Regions from separate parts of the Homo sapiens genome. Here all the other regions are linked to region 1. The links come from fine-mapping of genetic effects on gene expression. A gene starts in region 1. Each other region holds a variant in brackets. All regions are shown on one strand. Distances are between the middles of the regions.

Evidence for each region. PIP is the estimated chance that this variant, and not a neighbour inherited with it, causes the effect. A credible set is the group of variants that fine-mapping cannot tell apart.
Region 2: its variant is the best candidate, but not a certain one, in a credible set for the expression of ERAP1 in whole blood (INTERVAL, PIP 0.89).
Region 3: its variant is the best candidate, but not a certain one, in a credible set for the expression of ERAP1 in whole blood (INTERVAL, PIP 0.65).
Region 4: its variant is the best candidate, but not a certain one, in a credible set for the expression of ERAP1 in whole blood (INTERVAL, PIP 0.50).

Annotation. Positions count from the first base shown.
Region 1 is chr5:96,805,439-96,810,589 of GRCh38, reverse strand. ERAP1 (endoplasmic reticulum aminopeptidase 1) reads left to right here and starts at 2,645. Exons shown (of 19, transcript NM_001040458.3): 1 at 2,645-2,730. It overlaps LOC124901033 (a long non-coding RNA gene), which reads right to left and starts at 3,132. Exons shown (of 3, transcript XR_007058879.1): 1 at 2,013-3,132. RefSeq lists enhancers at 1,965-2,034, 2,191-2,690, 2,691-3,192 and a silencer at 2,765-3,224.
Region 2 is chr5:96,858,729-96,863,879 of GRCh38, reverse strand. It overlaps a transcript of ERAP1 not described here. Among named protein-coding and RNA genes, the nearest start is that of ERAP2, 15 kb to the left of the region's middle. The variant A/C (reference allele first, on the strand shown) is at 2,599.
Region 3 is chr5:96,500,938-96,506,088 of GRCh38, reverse strand. The region is part of intron 4 of LOC101929710 (a long non-coding RNA gene); the gene reads right to left. It also overlaps a transcript of CAST not described here. Among named protein-coding and RNA genes, the nearest start is that of PCSK1, 70 kb to the right of the region's middle. The variant CTG/G (reference allele first, on the strand shown) is at 2,111.
Region 4 is chr5:96,727,643-96,732,793 of GRCh38, reverse strand. CAST (calpastatin) reads right to left here. Exons shown (of 32, transcript NM_001750.7): 7 at 3,585-3,641; 8 at 3,069-3,182; 9 at 1,934-2,014. Among named protein-coding and RNA genes, the nearest start is that of CAST, 68 kb to the right of the region's middle. The variant T/G (reference allele first, on the strand shown) is at 2,445.

The sequences.
Region 1 (5,151 bases):
ACAATATTAGTGTTTACCAACCCCTCCTTGTTCTGGCCAATGCAATGTGAGTAGAATTAGTGTGTGTTTTCTCTTTGACTCTGAGCAAGTTGCCGACCTGTCTCATTTTTCTCATCTATAAAGCATAATATCTACATTACAGGGTTGCTGAAGAGATCAAATTATAAACACACACATGCACACATAGCTAGCATTTAACAGTATCTAACAGTTGGTAGGGAATCAATAAACCTAGGTACCCTTTCTCTCTGTTCCCTTCCTTCTAACCATTTCTAAGCTCGGTAATGTGCTGTTTTGATCTCACAGGCTCTAGAACTAGGACTCCTTAAAGTCCTTACTCCAAGGTCTGTGTCCTCTACATCCCTGCTAGGGCTTTGAAACTAGAAGTGAATGCTGCCAAATCCTCTGACTTATCGCTCTTTGTAGTGCACTTCAACTCTAAAGACGAAATCACGGCCAGGGCGACAGGCTAAAGTCTGAGTCAGGGTGAGCTTTTGGGGAAACGGCGTGGAGCGGGTGGTGGTGTCAGCTCTCTCCTCGCCTACACTTCAGCTCCTTTCTGCCCACATCCATTCAGGGCATTGCCCTGTTTGTCTCCTCAGCTGTCTTCTGTATTAACCTCCAGCCTGTTGGGTGCATTCAGTTCTGCCAGCTGGACTTTCAATATGTATTTAAAAAGACACATAAACAAAAAACAAAAACAAAAACAAAAAAACTTTACTAGAAGCCAAAGGAAAACCATCATATTCAAAAATATAAATATAAAAGCAAAGAAATGCATACATTTACTGGACAAAGAGGTCTCATCTTGAGTAAACTGGGAGCACTCCGAGATGTCTGGAGGTCTTGGAGGCTACACGCTATCCATTGATACCTCCTGTCAAATTCTGAACATGCAGAAATTACCAGATCTCAAAGTCCTCATTTCTTGTTGAATTTTAGTGAAAAAAACTTCCCTGGATCCCACCGTAGTTGAGTCTTGGAACAGGGTGTTAATCTTTATATTATAAAATGTCCTTGACTAGAGATAATAGGCAGTATGAAACATTATATTTTTAAAAAGGAAACATAATATTGAAAAAAAAAGAGAAATACTGTTGCAGTGACTTGGAATCCCCAGTTCTCAAAGGGAAGAAGGCCAATAAAGAAGTGGGAGAAGAAAGTCTGAGAACCGCATGAAAAGGGTCCTGTTCCCACTAGGACCATGGTCCACTCACCAAATTATCAGAGACGTTTGAACCAGAGCAACTCCATCTTGAATAGGAGCTGGGTAAAATAAGGCTGAGACCTACTGGGCTACACTCCCAGGAGGTTAGACATTCTAAGTCACAGAATGAGATAGAAGGTAGGCACAAGACACAGGTCATAAAGACCTTGCTGATAAAACAGGTTGCAGTAAGGAAGCTGGCCAAAACCCACCAAAACCAGGATGGCAATGAGAGTGTCCTCTGGTCGTCACTGCTACGGTCTCACCAGCTCCATGACAGTTTACAAATGCCACTGCAACGTCGGGAAGCTACCCTATATGGTCTAAAAAGGGGAGGCATGAATAATTTCCCCCGCTTAGCATATAATCAAGAAATAACCCTAAAAATGGACAACCAACAGCCCTTGGGGGTGCTCTGCCTATGAGTAGCCATTCTTTTATTCCTTTAGTTTCTTAATTACTTGCTTTCACTTTACTCCATGGACTCCCCTCAAATTCTTTCTTGCGCAAAATCCAAGAACCCTCTCTTGGGGTCTGGATCGGGACCCATTTTCGGTAATAAACTTGTAGCATTTGGTGTTTTAATGTTTGTGTTTTCTTGACTTGTTACCTCATTTAGCCTCAACTGTTTAAAGATGGTCTTTTTGGCCATTTTATTCAGCTTTAATTGTTCTAAGGGGAGTGAAGAAATGGTCATTTACTTTGAAAAATCAGAGGGAACGTGTTGATGCGGGAAGCAGCTAATCCTTGGGGTACAGTGGCCCTTGGTAGTGCAGGAAAGTCCTGGGGGCCACCTCTAACCCACCTTCCTCCTCTACAGCATCTCCCACTGTAGTCATTCTCTACCGAAGCCCCAGAAGGTGCGGCACTTTGCCACGACAGAGTACTGGGTTCATGTTTCTTTCCGAGGCGGGCCAAGAGCTCTCAGCCCACTGGCAGTGGCGAGATGACGGACACCCAGCGAGTCCAATGGGCGTCGAACGCGTCTAGGCTTGGTGGACTTGTCAGCGCCTGCCTGGCTTCGGTCCCCAACTTGAGCACCGGCCCTTTCCTGCATGCCCCTAACCCTCGCAACGCTAAACAGTGAAAAAAAAAAAAAGACAAAAACAAAAAGCATCTCAACACACACACACACACACACACACACACACACACACACACACACACACACACACACACACACACACACACACACGGATCCGCGTTCAGAAAGGCGTGCACTTCCTACGCCTGATCCCCCGCATCGCAACCTCGCAGCTTCCCCGGCGTGCAGCGCTCATTTACCAATTCCCTTCCTGGGAGTTGCGGCTTCCCTCGCTCGGCCCCACTCCCGTTTACCCTTTCCCCAGCTCCCGCCTTAGCCAGGGGCTTCCCCGCCTGCCGCTAGGGCTCGGGCCGAAGCGCCGCTCAGCGCCAGCCTGCCGCTCCCCGGGCTCCACTTTCACTTTCGGTCCTGGGGGAGCTAGGCCGGCGGCAGTGGTGGTGGCGGCGGCGCAAGGGTGAGGGCGGCCCCAGAACCCCAGGTACAGCGCGCTCGAGCCGCGGGTAGGGGACTGCGGGCCGGGAGGAGAGCGCGGCACCCGCCCCTTCCCTGCGCCCGTCAAGTGGGGGGCTGAGGGCCTGGGGCACGGGAGGAGGGAGACGGGGCACGGGAGGAGGGAGACGGGGCGCGGGAGGAAGGCGACGGGGCGCGGGAGGAAGGCGACGGGGCGCGAGACAGGGCGCGGGAAGGGCGGGGGGAGTCGCTGGCTAGGCCCGAGTCCGCGGGGTGCCCGGCGGGTTGGCGGCGGGCCCACCCCTGCCGGTCCCTGTCCCTGTCCCTCCGGGCGCGTGGCCGGTGCGCCTGCTTCACGGGTCTCCCCGCTGTTCGGCCGGCGGGAGCCTCCCTCAGCGCTCCGCCTGGCGCCTGGATGCCTGCCAGTCCTGCAGGCCACCGACGCCCGCGCGAGGCCAAAAGGCGGGGTGGGGCGGGCAGCTGGCTCGGGCTGAGGAGGGCACCTGCCCATAGCTGCTAGAGAAACCCAGAGGCTTTGGGTTAAAGACTCTGGTGGGGTGGGATGCGCGGGCCGTGTGTGTTCTTAAGGTCACTTCCCTCCCTGCTTCTCCTGTTCTTCTGGTCAGCAATTCTCTCTCTCCCCTTCGCTCTGGCTCTGGCTGGGTTTTATTCAGATAAAGCACCTCTGTTGACGCAAATTAAAAGTTTCCTATCTGGGTGCCTCACTGGCCAGGTGGTCCTACAAAGTTAATTCCATGAGGGGAAGGGGGAGAGCACACACTTCCTCACGCTTTTGGATTTCTTTGTGTAGGCTAGGTTCAGAAAGAAATTATCTGTTTCCTATTAAACACCCAGAGGATTCGCTCTGAACTCAGGACGTGGTCAACAATTAACAAAACAACAAAACAAAACAAAACAAAACAAAAAACTTGAAAATTGGGCACAGTTGTCTCTTGCCTGAGGATTTTTAATTAGTATAAGTAGCACATTTTCAGGTGCGGCCTGAATAGAAACATTCTAGTACTTTTTTTTTTTTCAAATTAATCCAGCATTTTTATTATTTACCAACAGTGCTTGTTAATTTCATTGTTCAGGAAATTCTGGAAGAACCTCAATTACTTCTTGATGATCTATTTCATATACTATAGTGCCCCAATAAAAGGAAGGGAGGCAGAGGTTGCAGTGAGCCAAGATCGCACCACTGCACTCCAGCCTGGGAGACAGAGCGAGACTCCGTCTCAAAAAAAAAAAAAAAAAAAAAAAAGAGGGATCTTGGTGAAGCTGAAAAAGCAGGGAGTTTATACTCACACAGATGTGGATTGCATTCCAACAAGTTGTGTGAACTTAGCAAAGTTACATGAATGGTTCTTTGCTTCAGTTACCCCACCTTGAATGAGAATAATAGGCTATTAGAGAGAGTGAGCATGTGTAAAGTGCCTGGCACTTTGGAGGAGCTTAGTAAATATTAGTTCTTTTTCCTCCTTGGCTTCTATTCCTTTAAGTGTTAGTGGAGTGTAACTTCAAAGAGAATTGTACTTCTCTTGGGAAGAGCTGCTTATATTGAGTAGACTACTGTTTTTGAGAGCTTTCTTTTTTTTTAACTGCCTCCCTTTCAGAAAATTGTTAGTAAAACCAGACCCTAGGAGACCAGCCAGAACCATGAAATGCCATGTTTCAAACTGGAACACTTACTATTGGAAGCAAAGCCAAACAAGAGCTAATTTTTCAGGGGAAGAGCCAAACACACGAACATGATCACAGAATCTTGGATGTAGCCTACAGTTTGGGATTAATAAGAGAATTTATTAGTGAAGCCCTTTATTCACTACATGGAGTTTTTACCAAGCCCCACTCATGCACTGCATCCTCGTTGAGACATAACTGTTTCTCTTTGGACCCCTCATGGACCCAACCCTGCAAAGCCTCTGATCCAAGGTCCCGGTACCAACCCCTTCCGCAGCACATCAGCCTTTCTGTCAGCTCATAACGAGTTGGAATTTCTAGATCTTCTCTGGGGCTGTTGGAGAGGTCTCGGGGACTTTCAGAGTCCTTACATGCTTGAACCTGCCACCTTCACAGAGTCCTCTGGATCCCGTCTTGGGGCAGGGGCGATGCTCATTAAGCTGTTGCTGCCAGTAATTCCATATGGAAAGCAAAACACAAGTTCCATTTACTCTCTAGTTCCCCAACTTCAAGGGCAAAAAAATGTTCTCCCTGTTCACACTTCCTGTCTCACCTGGGTGGTGCCTTTTGAACTGGGATTATGAGATTTCCAAGACTCTCTCTAATGTGTAGGTATCCTTTCTGTTTAGCCTCCAGATTGCTCCAGAGGTGAGGAGAAGGGAATTCCCTTGAGCTGTGCATTTGGGAAGGGAGCAAGGAAGTCAGGGGTTAGGGAAGGCACTTCAGCCATTGCCTTGAATTAGTATCCTATCACATAGAGTTGAAG
Region 2 (5,151 bases), 53 kb before region 1:
GGAGCAAAGTGATTGAGATGAGATTTTTTTTTAAATAAGATTTCTAAATTTCCTGGTTGGAATTAGGGGTTTGTACCAGAGAGGAGTGGTAGACGTGACTGGATCCTGAACATATCTAGCTTGAAGAACTAATAACAATTTTCACATAAAAATCAGTGGGTAGTTAGAAATGTGAACAAAAATGTATGAAAAAATCAGGTAGGAATTCACATAAAAAGGCAGCAAAGTCGTGACCATGGGTGAATCTGCTAAGAGAAAATACAGAGTAAAAAGAGAAAGAGGCTGAAGGAGCTTCTGTTTCGGGGAACAAGAAAAAGAAAAGACAGCCAGAGAAATCGGGCACGGGGGAGGATTATAAGAACATGACAGAAGCCAAGAGAAGAGAATTTCATGAAAAAGTGGTGATCAGGAGACACAAATGAAAGGTGAGTGAGGATGGTGATTGAGAAAAACCCACTGAATTGGATGACACAGAAAATGCCTCTGAGAGAAACCGCTTAACTTCAGGGATAGGCAAAGGGTGAAACCACACTGCAGAGGGCTAAGGAGGTGGACGGTGGGAGTAGAGCTGTTGGTAGAATCTGTAGAGGTTCTGGTGTAGAGGCTCTGCAGCTGACAGAGGGCAAATTGTGAGGGAGGGTGCAGGAAGAGACTGATTGGGGAACAAGCCTTGGGTACTTAGAATGGAGAGGAGCCTGAGGAGGGCACACAGGGAGTGAAGGTGGGGGCAGGGGGCAAACTTAGGGCACAGTGGTGGATTTAGAGAAGAGAGACTTGAGAGGATAGTGCAGGTGGATCTTCTAACAAAAGAAGAAATACTTATGTAAAAAAAAATAAGTGAATCATAAGTTTCCAAGAAGCATAAGTTAACATGGCAAGTGTGCCACTTTCAGTTATGCCCTGCTCAACCCAGATACGGGTGAGGGTAAACGAGGTAGCTCTGAAAGGTCCAAGGCATTTTGGTAGGAAGTAACAGCAAAATGGCAGGGGGACAGGAAAGGTCAAAATGAGACCTTTTCTTAGGGATGGGCCCAGAGAATGGTGCAGGGATAGTCTTGTAACAAGCACTTCTCTTCCTCCTTAATCTCTCAATTGCCTCATATGCTTGGAATGAGGCAGAGCATAAAGAATAATCTCTAGGCAATCATGGTGGCTGCAGAGAAGGTTACCCTGTTGCCATCAAGAAAAGATCAGCTTAAAATGAAACAACAGAGGTCTTTAAAACTCATTCGCTACTAAAAGTCAACCATTCACCAGACAATGATGGAATCTTTTAATGCCCCTTATTCATAACCACTGTAATTTCAGGGAGTTTCTGTTACAAGTTCCAGATCTCATATCTGGCTTTGACACACTGAAATATTTGCTAATAGCTGCCTTCTGATTTTCTGTGACAGCTTGGGTTAGACTGATTCTCAGGCCATCTTCACAAGGTTGGCAGCCGCAATTTCACTAATAAGAAGGCAAGTTTATTTATTTATTTACATGATTATTTGTTGTAAAAGTTTACTGTTTATTGAGATGGCACTTGGGTAGCAATGTCTTGTCCACTAAAGAACTTATAGTATCACCTTTTGTAAAGATTGATTTAGACTGGGCAGGGTGGCTCATGCCTGTAATCCCAGCACTCTGGGAGGCTGAGGCAGGATTGTTTGAGGCCAGGAGTTTGAGACCAGCTTGGACAACATAGGAAGATCCCATCTCTACAAAAAATAAAAAGAAAAAAATAAAACTAGCTGGGCATGATTGTGTGCACCTGTGGTTCCAACTTCTTGGGAGGCTGAGCCAAGAGGATCACTTGAGCCCAGGAGTTCAAGGATGCAGTAAGCCATGATTGCACTATTGCACTCCAACCTGGGTGACAGAGCAAGACCTTGTCTTGATTTTTTTTTCAAAAAGAATCACAATATACCTTGGTTCACAAGTCATACAAGCTTTTTAGAATGGGATGCTTTAAATTTCAAGTTTATTTTGATCATTAAAAAGTAATAGGCAAAATTACTGTTGGGTAAATGCAACAGAATTCCCGCAAGGATGTTGTCTCTGCTCTGTAGTCACAGTGGAATGTTAAGCACATGGGCTTTGAAGTTAAATGTCCTGGGTTCAAATGCTGGGCCATGTACTTCAGTTAGATGTTTAAGTTCTGTTGCCTCACTTTCCTCATTTGTAAAGTGGGGATAATTAAAATACCTGTCTTAAAGTGTTGTAGCTGGGATCAAATAAGATGGTATGTGATGAAGCCTGGCATATCCCAAGTGCTCCAGAGATATTAGTGCTTATTATTACTGAGGAGGACGAATGGTATCCACAGCATCAGAGGAAACATTGCCAATTCTGATTAAGGCTTTCAGAAATATCTTCAAGTACCTTTGGAGCTGCTTATGAACCTTGAGACTATCCCTGTGAAATCTTTAAATGAGAATAAGCACATACCAGTCAAAAGCCACCTAGATTTTTACCTAATCTGCATTCAGATCCGCTGGGGCTCAGGCTGCTCATCAGAAACTCTCCTTAATTAGGCCACTCTATCCTTTGTTACCAGAGAGTTAGTCGAAGGCTGCCTTAGTGAAGTATCTGTGTGTTCATTACCTCTGTAAC[A/C]TGAAGATGTCCCCAGGGAAAACCCACACTGATGCCACCTGCTTCTGGAAGCCACAGCAAGTGATAAGACCAGCAGATCAGAGGCACAAGCCCTTGTTCATACCTTCTTTGTTGTGGAGTGGTCAGATGCCTTATTTGTGGGAATTGATGAAAATATTTTGGCAGTTCAAAGAATTGTCAGGAAGGCTGTAGAAACAGACTTACAAACTTCTAGGGAGACAATTTGGCCACAGAATCACAAAGGCAGGTTTTGACCTTGTAATGACTGCTCTCTTCAGTCGGTAGAGGCTTCTGCCCACACAATTAAAAAAAAAAAAAGAAAGAAAAGAAAGCTCTACATGAAGACTGTTTACCTGTGTTGCTCACTTGTAAATTGAAGTCGCACATTACTGCATTGGATTGGCAGAGGTAAGTCACTTGTCTGCAATTTGGCTATAATGGAGGCTGGAAATTTGAGTCTGATTTCTTTGGGGCAGTGGGACTGAAAAGTGAGGCAATCATTTAGAATATGATAAACAGCAACCAACTGACAAATGTGCATTAGCTCCCCCTTTTATTCCACTCCCCTGAATTCTAGCCAACTCCTTCTTGTGGAAGTCTTCCAGAAACTGACTCTTACTCAAGGAAACCTTCCTAGACCCCCTTACACTCAACTGGGTTACCAGACAGTAATATAGTAAGGTTGGGGCCCATGTCTTTTTCATTCAGTGCTATATTTTAGTATCTAATACAGTGAGCTTGGCACACAGTAGTTGCTAAATAATTTTGTTGAATGAATGTAAGACTAGTTCTTCTCCTCTGTAAATTCAGCCTTAATATCACCACCACAAACAACAACACAGGCCTAATTTATCATTATAAATATAATTACTTATATTTATAAATACACATCCTGTGAAACACATTCTCATTATAAATTTATAGACAGGGCTGGGTGTAGTGGCTCACACTTGTAATCCCAGCACTTTGGGAGGCCCAGGCAGGTGGATCACCTGAGGTCAGGAGTTCGAGACCAGCCTGGCCAACATGGTGAAACTCCGTCTGTACCAAAAATACAAAAATTAGCCAGGCGTAGTGGCACACGCCTGTAATCCCAGCTACTCTGGAGGCTGAGGCAGAAGAATTGCTCGAGACAGAGGTTGCAGTGAGCCGAGATCATGCCACTGTGCTCCAGCCTGGTCAACAGAGTGAGACTCTCTCAAAAATTAAATAAATAAATAAATAAATAAAATTAACAGATTGATAGACAATATGTATTTTGGGCTGTACTTTATCTCAATATGATGTTAAATCACAAAACGATATGCCATTCACTGCAGCCCAGCCCAAGCTCAGGGAAGGTAGTATGCTAAGTATTATTTTACACCAGCTAGAGGGGATTTTAAATTTCATGTATGAAAAATCTCCCTCAAACATTAACATAGCCTGCTTGGCCTTACTGATGTTATTAGGCTGATGTCAATAGGTCAGAGTCATAGTTGCCAGCCAAAATTAATAATGCCATAAGTACTACTAGGCTTGCTTAGCAGTTAACAAAAACTTTGATATATATTATGTCATTGATCCTCAGAACAATCTCCACAGAAATCAGGGGAGATATTACAGATGAGAAAATAGAAGCCCAGTGAGGTTAAGTGGTTTGCCAAGGTCTTAACAGTGACTAGATGAAAGGCCAAGGCAGGATCTAGCCTCTCAGCTCTGTCCTGGGCATTCCCCACATTGCACTGTGCAGCTTGTGTGACATTGAGGCTCAGATTGCCCCAATTCTGGAAAGATACAAGCAGGGAACCATCCACCTACAGAGGAGAATGGTCTTCTTTGGTTCCGCCAATCTAGTATCCCAGCACAAACGGTCTGGGAGCCTGAGGCAATGCTCTGGGCAACAGAACTGTTCCCTCAACTCAACCTGCACTCGCAGAGCAACAGCGTGTTGGGAACACGAAGGTGAATGTGGCCCCCTGCTGTGTTTGGACTCTGTTTTCCAGGGGGGTTTTTTGGCAGTGTGGAAGGAAGGCTTTCCATTGACAGCCCCAAGTACAGACCAGGATGGACAAGAAGGACACTCCTGTGTCGCCCAGAGACCCAATTCAACAAACTGCACAGACAACTAACAAACGAAGGCCTTGTGCTAATTACTTAGGGGCATGGAAAGGAATAGAACATGTCTGTTGTTCAGTGTGTGTGTGTGTGTGTGTGTGTGTGTGTGTGTGTGTGTGTGTGTATGCATGTGGCAGGGCCTTGGTCTAACATAAGCTTCATCTTTTTCTTTTGGAATTGTAGCAACCAATATCATGCTTTGAAGGAGTAATCTTCAGAGCCAGGGTTCTTGGAACTGTTTTGTGATGTTGTTGGATTTGTGTTTGCCTGTGAATCAAGAACACAGGGAAGTTTTAAAGTGATGAGAATGACTTGCTGATGTTCCACACTGTTCCTCTTCCTTTTTCTCACTTTTATTCCTTTGCTGGGCTTCTATTCTGGACATGACATTTTAGCTACAGTAACTATCTATTTACATACCATGATTAATCTAACCTGGGGACTTCTCTGGGCTCT
Region 3 (5,151 bases), 300 kb after region 1:
GGGGAAAAATGGAAAACTAGAAAGGTTCATAATTTGCTTAAGAACATAAAACTTGTAGGTAGCAGAAATAAAATTGGAAAAATCTCTTCTTTCTCTAGTGCCATGGCCTTGTCATCCCAAACCACCAGGGCAGAGTTTAGCTTCTTTTCTGATCCCAGGGATCTAGAATCCTCAGGTACTCCAAGGTCAGGGAAATCCTGGTCTATCACTTCCCAGGCATTCAGAAGGCTGTTAGAAGGAGGCTGAGGAAACCCATAAGGTGCCCTGTTGATGAAGCCTGTGGATGTAGCTTCCACCCAGCTGGCGGCAGTAGGACTGACAAGGCCTGTGCACCCAAAACCCTTCTGCTCTTACCTCTTCAGGAGCAGCCTCAACTGGGTCCTTTTAGCCTGAGATCTCTGAAAGAGGCCCCTTCAGGCTCAGTGCACAGAAGCAGGGCACAGAAAGTGGAGGCAAAAGAACTGAGAACCAGTGGTGATTCTATGCCTTTCCTTTGTCAGCAGAGTTCTAAAAAAGGCCCTTCTCTATGGGCTAAAGATTCAGCAGTGACAGAAGAGGATTTAATAATATTCCTTTTCCTTAGATTTTATTTATTTTTATTATTTTTTTTGAGACGGAGTCCCACTCTGTTGCCCAGGCTGGAGTGCAGTGGCGGGTCTCGGCTCACTGCAACCTCCACCTCCCGGGTTCAAGTGATTCTCCTGCATCAGCCTCCTGAGTAGCTGGGATTACAGGCACCCGCCACCATGCCCGGCTAAAGTTCTACTACTTTTATTGCTCATGATTCTATGTCTAAAAACTTTGCTAAATTATGCTCAAAATTTTTATTTATTCTTTGAGATTGGGTGATTTCATGGCCAATACAACCTTGAAAATGAGGCGTGGTTTTATTTTTTAACATTTTGAAGTTTGGCAGCTTTTTAGAAAGCTAAGCACATGCTAACCATTTGATCCAGCAGTTCGGCTCCTTTACATTTACCCAAGAGAAATGTAAACATGTGTCCACACAAAGGCTTATATTGAAATGTTCATAGCAGAGACACTATAGTCAAAAACTGGAAATACATCAATGATCCATCAACTGGTGAACGCATAAACAAAATGTGATCTACCCACAATGGCCACACTGGTAGCTGACTATTAAAAAATAACAAAATACTCATATGAGCAACAACGTGAATGAACCTCAAAAACACACTAGACACAAAGGCTACATATTGTGTTATTCCATTTATACGAAATTTCTAGAAATGGCAAAACAACAGATACAGAAAGCACATCATTTGTTGCCTGGATTTGAGGTGGGAGCAGAAATCAACAGCAAATGGCAAGAGGGAATTTTGGAGATGATGAGACTTTGGGGAAAGTGGACTGTGGTGACAGTTGCACAACTGTGTGTACCGTTACCAAATCTTGTCAAATTGTACATTTCAAGTGGGTGACTTTTATGGTTATATTATACCTCAATAAATCTATGAGAAGGGGGAAGAGGAATACGTTGTTTAGGCAGTGGTCTGTCTTTAAGATGAACAAAAAAACACGTTAGGTTAAAAAAAAAAAAAAAGTATTCTAAGCACAAACGATTTCCTTGGGATACGATTGCAAATTTAAAATCTGCTCATGAGGAAATTAATATTTGCTCAAACACAGTGATCATCTGACATTTCAAGCTGGTTCCTGTGTGGGTGGAAATGTGCAAGCACATCTGTGTTACCTCTTGGAATTCTTTGGAGGACTTTTTTTTGACAGGATCACAGGATAAACTGCCATCGTGTATGGGAAATGAGAAAAGAGACAATATCTGTGCTGAACTGGATGTGCCGGTGAGGTCTTTTTGAAAAAGCTGATGGGGCCAGATAGCGCTGGGGAGAGGGTGGAGAGTGATAAGGTAGGACTGGCAGCAAGATTCGAATTCTCCTCCCTCCAGCTGGCCTGCTGAGAGGACCAATGGACATAAGAAACAAAGCATGTCATAGGCCGTGCATTCAAACAATATCAATCGGCCCTCAGAGAAAGCACACAATGGTCAAGGTGGCATTTCAATAAAGCAGACAGCTGCCTTCTGGCCTGCATGTCAGCCTCCCTGCAGCCTGGAGAGTCACTTCTCTCT[CTG/G]TGGGAAAGCCTGCTGGAGGCATATTGGCTACAAGATGAGGTTTCTTTTTCCATTTTCTTCTTCTTTTTTGCAAAAATCAGCTTGAAGCTCGTTAATGTCAGGAATGAGAGTGAAGCGCTCTTACGAAATATGAAAGGTGGGGTGCAGGCCAGGGAAAGGACTAAAAGGGTGGAGGTGTTGGAAAGGTGGGATAAAAGCATGGTGGAGGGGAAGGCGTGAGCCCTGTCATTTGGGCTGCTGCGCTTGGGCTTCTATTCCCTCAAGTGAGACTATCAGAAGGAGTCCGCATTTTTCAATAGAGCAGCACGACATTAAGCGGATGGTTTCTGAACACTGGCACTTCAGACTGTGAGGTCTCTGTGGGTGGGTTTTATGCCGTGCTCTTTGGTTGCTGGAATAGAAATCCCACGGGAATCGTGTAGCAGCAGCAGACTTTGTGGATAGCAAAGAGGATTATGTGAGGTGGGTAAGAGCTTTCTTTCCCCCTTTCTTCTCTTTTCTTTTTCTTTTTAATGGGGGCATTCAATTTCCCAGAGAAATGGAACCATGTCTTCACAGCCAAAGAAAAAAGGGAGGTTTAAGGCAGAGCTCAAATAATTCAGGCCAAAGAGGATTTGTGCTGGCCACCCCCTTTCACCTTCACCTTACATAGGAGAATATATTGTGAACAAGTACTTCTGAGGCAAAAAGGAGGAAAATGAGCCAAGAATAAAAACAAACAATTCATGGGTAAGGACATATAAGTGAAAATCAATATAGGAAAAGGCTTGAAACTCCTAGTAACTAGTGAAATACAAACTAAAGCAAACATGAGATACCAGTTTTTACATTTCTAATTTAAAAAGATTGAAAGGTATTACAGTACTCTGAAGACAAGGAGCAGGCCTTCCATATATTGCTTGTGGGAATGTAAATTACAGTAGCCTTTTAGTAAGGCAACCAACAACTAGCTTTTTAAGCTTAAAAAGAAATCAGAAAAGACCCCCAAGTCCTCCTCTTTGCAATTAAACTCACAGAAATGAAAAGCACCAGCTTGTTGGATGGCAGAAAAACTGGAAACAACCCAAAGCCATGAACCATGAATCAAAGAGGGATGAAGAATTATAGGGCATCTGTATTATAGAGTGCCATGTGGATATTTAAAGAAGTGAGTTGGAGTCATATTGATTAATCTGGCAAAAATTTCCATAGTCTTTTATGCTTGCAAATGTTTCTAAGTAATACATGTAGTAGATCTAATATTTAGTAAAAAACATAAACTCCCACCTCACCCCCAAAAGCAGATAGAGGTCAATGTTTAGATGGATAGAAGAAAGAAAGAAAGAAAGAAAGAAAGAAAGAAAGAAAGAAAGAAAGAAAGACTAGGTAACTTGCTAACCTTGATTATCTTAACAGAGTAGGATGGGGGAAAAGCATTAATTTTTTTTATACATCTTTGAATTGTTCATTTGTGACAAAGAACATGCACTGTTTTTTAATTAAACAATTTCTTTAATCTTTAATTTTAAGAAATAAAAAATTAATTAAAATTAAAGAATTTTTAAAAATTAAAATCCTTTAATTAAAAAAGAAATACTGCTATGAACTCAGTCCTGTCCTGAGATCCTGTTTCTGCTATCAAACAGCTTACAACCTAGTTCAAATAATAATATAAACAAAAGCAACCAGAGAAAAACAAATGACAATACACGTCAAGATATTCTTTGCCTTTGGAGGCTGGACAACAATGTGGGCCAAGGCAAGAGGGTAGAATTATGTGTTATTTTTATTTGATGGAAGAGAAGGTAGTCAGAGATTTGAAGTACAGGATTTATGTTATGAGTGCTGTGAGAGAAAAAAGGTTAAATCTACAGGGTGGAACTATCACATCAATCTTGCCAATTGTGTTTTTTTCAAATGTTCCAAATCTTTGCAGACTATTTTTTATGTGAGAAAAATAAAGTCCTGTGTACTTAATAACAGAGACATGCTCTGGGAAATGTGTTGTTAGATGACTTTGTTGTTGTAGGTATATCATAGGTGTACACCTCTTATACAAACCTAGATAATATAGCCTACTACACACCTACACACAATACGCTACAAAGCATGTTACTGTACTGAATACTGTAGACAATTGTAACAATTCACTAGGCAATAAGAATTTTTCAGCTCCATCATAATCCTATGGGATCACCGTTGTATATGTGGTCTGTCCTTGACTGAACTGTTATGTGGCACATGACTATACCAAAAGAAGTGTTTTAACATTTCCTGTTCTAATGGTGGATTTGTCCATTTCCTTTTGAATATTACTTAAATTGAGTGATGGGTTCATTGCATTACTTATCTCTGTTTATTCTACTTTAGAAAAAATGGGATTTATTTGGTGTATATAGAAACAAAACACATTTTCCTCTGGTCAATTTTTGCATTTTGTATTTTTGCAGCTATCACAAATGAAGAATTTTTATATCTTTCTGATGAAATGATCCTCTTATGATTGCATGGTTACCATTTCTATCCCTAGTAATGCTTTTTATCTTAAAGTAAATTTTGTCAGATATTAACGTTGTTCCACAAGTTTTTTTTGACTGATATTTAACTAGTATGAGATGATTATGCCTGTTTTATTTTTTAGGTATGTCTCTGACTAATTGTTTATAGATAAGAGTTTTTAAAAATCTATACTTCTAATCTTTAAATGAAGAGTTTAGCCCATGTACATTTATTGTGTTACTGACATATTTAAGTTTTTTTTGTCCTGTATTATTTAATATTTTATAGTTGTCTCAGGCCTTTTCATTCAGTAACCTCTTTCCTTGTCTGATGCCTCTGGTATCCGACCCATAACTTTTTAATCTAGATATGGCCATTCTGCCGAAGTTTTCAGGGTTTTCAGGTTGACGCCTCAGCCAGGCACTCTACCTGACTTTGTTAACTTTATTTTTATTTGCACTTGGTGCCACACTCTTCAGCCCACTCCACCTCCAGTCCCTGGGGCCACCATTTCTCTGGGAGGAGTAGCCAGGCATTTCTTGTCACCTAAGCTCTAGCCA
Region 4 (5,151 bases), 78 kb after region 1:
TCCATCTTGAATTGATTTTTGTATAAGGTGTAAGGAAGGGATCCAGTTTCAGCTTTCTACATATGGCTAGCCAGTTTTCCCAGCACCATTTATTAAATAGGGAATCCTTTCCCCATTGCTTGTTTTTCTCAGGTTTGTCAAAGATCAGACGTTAGACCTAAAACCATAAAAACCCTAGAAGAAAACCTAGGCATTACCATTCAGGACATAGGCATGGGCAAGGACTTCATGTCCAAAACACCAAAAGCAATGGCAACAAAAGCCAAAATTGACAAATGGGATCTAATTAAACTAAAGAGCTTCTGCACAGCAAAAGAAACTACCATCAGAGTGAACAGGCAACCTACAAAATGGGAGAAAATTTTCGCAACCTACTCATCTGACAAAGGGCTAATATCCAGAATCTACAATGAACTCAAACAAATTTACAAGAAAAAAACAAACAACCCCATCAAAAAGTGGGCGAAGGACATGAACAGACACTTCTCAAAAGAAGACATTTATGCAGCCAAAAGACACATGAAAAAATGCTCATCATCACTGGCCATCAGAGAAATGCAAATCAAAACCACAATGAGATACCATCTCACACCAGTTAGAATGGCAATCATTCAAAAGTCAGGAAACAACAGGTGCTGGAGAGGATGTGGAGAAATAGGAACACTTTTACACTGTTGGTGGGACTGTAAACTAGTTCAACCCTTGTGGAAGTCAGTGTGGCGATTCCTCAGGGATCTAGAACTAGAAATACCATTTGACCTAGCCATCCCATTACTGGGTATATACCAAAAGGACTATAAATCATGCTGCTATAAAGACACATGCACAAGTATGTTTACTGCGGCATTATTCACAATAGCAAAGACTTCGAACCAACCCAAATGTCCAACAATGACAGAGTGGATTAAGAAAATGTGGCACATATACACCATGGAATACTATGCAGCCATAAAAAATGATGAGTTCATGTCCTTTGTAGGGACATGGATGAAATTGGAAATCATCATTCTCAGTAAACTATCGCAAGAACGAAAAACCAAACACCGCATATTCTCACTCATACGTGGGAATTGAACAATGAGATCACATGGACACAGGAAGGGGAATATCACACTCGGGGGACTGTGGAGGGGTGGGGAGAGGGGGGAGGGATAGCATTGGGAGATATACCTAATGCTAGATGACGAGTTAGTGGGTGCAGCGCACCAGCATGGCACATGTATACATATGTAACTAACCTGCACAATGTGCACATGTACCCTAAAACTTAAAGTATAATGAAAATAAATAAATAAATAAATGCAAAAAAAAAAAAAAAAACCTTAAAGGATAAGGTAAAAAAAAAAATTCTATATTGCTATGGGTAGAAAAGGTAGATAACTTCTCATCTTATATTCCTGGGCAAGTATTGGAAGCAGCTCTTCAAAAAATCTAAGGAAGTTATGCCCACAATCACCCAGCTCAACACATCTACTTCATCCTGAGAGGACTTGAAATATTTCCTTTGAAAACTTCTCATATCCATTCATGTTGATGTCATAGTTGTGATACACTAGTATCAAGACAGCTGGCATCAGCATTGAAAGCTGAAAAAGCCGATTCAAATGCTCCTGGAAATTGTATTTGCTTTATTTCATATCTATACATTTGGAAGGGAGAGTCTGAGTCAACTCACATTTTAATGTCCTTGGTATTGATATCAGTACGTTATATATGGCATGTACTCAGTAAGCAGTTATTGAATATATAAATTTACAAATTATTTTTGGTATCTTGTTCACTCTCTATCCCTTAAATGCATGCTCTTCACAAAATTTTACATATAAGCAGTGTTCAGTTTTGCCAGATGATAGGTTATTTGAGCATACGTTTCTCATAAAAGAAACTTGAGAAGCACAGAGGCCCACGTTTCCGTCTGCTTGTGTGTGCTCACCTTGTCACCCGGCTTGCCAGATATTGCAGTGATACCAGCAACACTCTCTCCACCAGCAGAAATCATGTCTTGTGGTTTAGTCTAAGACAGTGAGGATAAAAGGTTGACAGAGCTAAGTATCTCTGCATGGCTATTATCAAGATCATGAGTTTCAAATGTCACTAACATCTGCCAGTTCACCCTCACGGACACCATAAGGGAATGTTTGCTCACTTCTATTGTACATGGTGCAGTGCTAAGCACCACATAAAGCTGGACTCAAGAGCCTAAAACGTTCACGCAGGTAACTTGCGTAGGTCAATCAGGCTAGGTAAGGATTGTGGTAAACTGGAGCACACATACCAGGTGTAATGGCTCTAGTCAATTGTTGCCACGTGAGCTCACTCTTACTAGATAGTCTGATTTTTCAAGAGAAGTTACAATTTGGGATGTTATGTGAAATGCCCTGACTTTGATTGCTGGCAATTAATTAAAAATAATTTTTTAACAACATTGTAAGCCAAACAAAATA[T/G]ACATGTGGCATTTAAGTGGTAGATCACAAATCTGTGATCTCTGATATAAAATATACTGTGAAGCAGACCTCGTTATTATCTTCCAAGTGCTCTCAATGAAAAAGTATTTCTTGTAGATGTTAATTCTTCTAAAAGGTGGCTGCTATTAACTACAGAAGTATGGAAGCAATTTCTAATTTTTGGCTCTGTAAGTTCAGCTCTTCTACAACACGACCCTAAAAATGCTTTAGGATTTCCATTTAAAGAACCAGATAATTCAGGGCACATATGTTCCCCAGCCCAGGTGTGGGGGGTCCAGGAGGCAGCCTCAATCCAAAGCTGCCTGTCTGGGAGACAGCAGAGCCTGCTGCCCTGCAGTCACAGCTGGTTATTGCTGGGCAGTAGGAGAAGGACGGACAGCGCATCCCCTAGACCAATCTGATGCCCTTCTCAAGCCATCCATGCATCCAAGTTCCTACAAGTCTATTTGAAAAACCAACAAAATAATAATACCAAATCACTATAATACAAAATATATTCAGCACAGCCCCATAGATTGAACTACACACCTCAGTGTGAACAGGGGAACCGTATCTTATTATCCAGTTGATGTTAAGGTTTTCCTATCAATCTGCTTCATTTACCTTTGGTTCTGTTGATTTCTCTGATGGCTGCTGTTCAGCTGATCTGGAAACTGCTTTTTTATTGTGAGCATCGTTACTTCCTGTATCTGATGCCTGCTTGGGTAGGCTTTTTGGCTGAAAGTACACACACAGGTGCCCACACACATATAAAGACATTGTTAACAAGATGGTAGTCTTAAACATAATACTGATACTTTTCTCTATAGAATAAAAATTGTTCATAACAGTTGTGCTGTCTGTGGTTCTAAATTATGTAAATTTCAATTAGTGTGATGTACATGTGACAATTTCACTTTAGGTACAAAATTTGAAATAGTGCAAATCCTTCCCCCAAAATTCAGCAAGAATCACATAAATTGTAAACACTGCTATTGCCACAGGATGGCACCATTTTAGCTGAAAAAACTAATATCCAACTATCCATTGTAGGGATTAGTTTTGAATTAATGAAAGATTTTAATTATATCCCACCAAAAGAGGTTGCCTTATAATTAAGTCCTGATGATAATCATTTACCTCTGTGTGTTCTTTTGGCTTTCCTTCTTGGGATTTTTTCTCATGAACCACAGACAGCTGTCAATTTCAAAAGATTAAACTTGATTACACTGGAATCCAACTTGTAATACTTTCAAACAAGAACAAGAACAAAATTCCAACTAAAACATTCTGCCTTTTTCAGGAAAAGCCCGCTTAGGCCCACTCAGGCCCACTCTTTAGGATCACAGAAGTAGACATGTGGTATCAGGTCAATAGTAACCCTGTCAGCAGTCTCTGAGAATGGTGATTATCAGAATAATGAAAAATTCAGTATTTCATCTGAATAATATTTTCAAATACACGTATGTCTCTAAATTACTGGTTGTTTTTCACAAATGTACACAGATAACACATGAGCCATGTGACTACTGAGTTTGTTGACAGCTAATCCCACTCTAGAAAATATATTTTAGGCCAGGCGCGGTGGCTCACGCCTGTAATCCCAGCACTTTGGGAGGCCGAGGCGGGCGTATCACAAGGTCAGGAGATCAAGACCATCCTGGCTAACACAGTGAAACCCCGTCTCTACTAAAAATACAAAAAAATGAGCCAGGCTTGGTGGCGGGTGCCTGTAGTCCCAGCTACTCGGGAGGCGGAGGAAGGAGAATGGCGTGAACCCGGGAGGCGGAGCTTGCAGTGAGCCAAGATGGCGCCACTGCACTCCAGCCTGGGCGACAGAGCGAGACTCCGTCTCAAAAGCAAAAAAAAAAAAAAACTCCTTTCATAGGATTTACAGAGTTTTGTTTCTTTGTTAGTAGAGAAGATCTTACCACCAGAAACCCAATTTTCTTGCGATTCAGTAGATAAAAGTATTTAAAGTGGAATAGAAGACAACTTCCACTTAGCTGCTGAATTCTTCACTCGGAGTACCCTATGTTCTACCATCCCCAGGGGCCACCAGGAGGCCTTCCACAAAATCAGACAAGCCTCACCTTTCACCCTCACCTGTGCCTGAAGTACCTGGGCTCAAATATCTGTGCTTTTCCACAGGAAACCTTGTGGTCTTGTCTTAGTACTTGCTTTAAGTGCTTGACAAAATAAAATGCAGCACCTTATTGAAGAGAAACATTTGTGCTGCCGTACACAACCTGGGGTTCACCTCCATGCAGAGGCAGAATGGCATTCATTCTGGACAGTCATGGGTCAGGAAAGTAACAGAAGCTAGCCTCCTGTGTAACTGTTAACTAGCTCCACCAACTGAGGTAAGACTGTCACGATAAACCCAGCCAGCCTCTTAGGAAAGATTCTCATCCCTAAGCCATCTAGGTGCTGAGTTCAGCAGACACCTTATTCTTGATGTCTCATTGGAATTGGAATTGGATATTCATTACTACTCTTTGCCTTTTTTCTTCTGTTCCTCTTGCTTTTTTCTTTTTTAAAGCAATCACTATACATATAACAAAAAACTAGATTTGAACAAAATGCTTCTGAAATAGTTTTCATTTATAAAATATTATATATTCTTTTTAACAATATACGGACTTAATGTTATATTTTATATATTCTACATGTACACAGCCATTCAAAAGGGTCTAAAAATTAATTA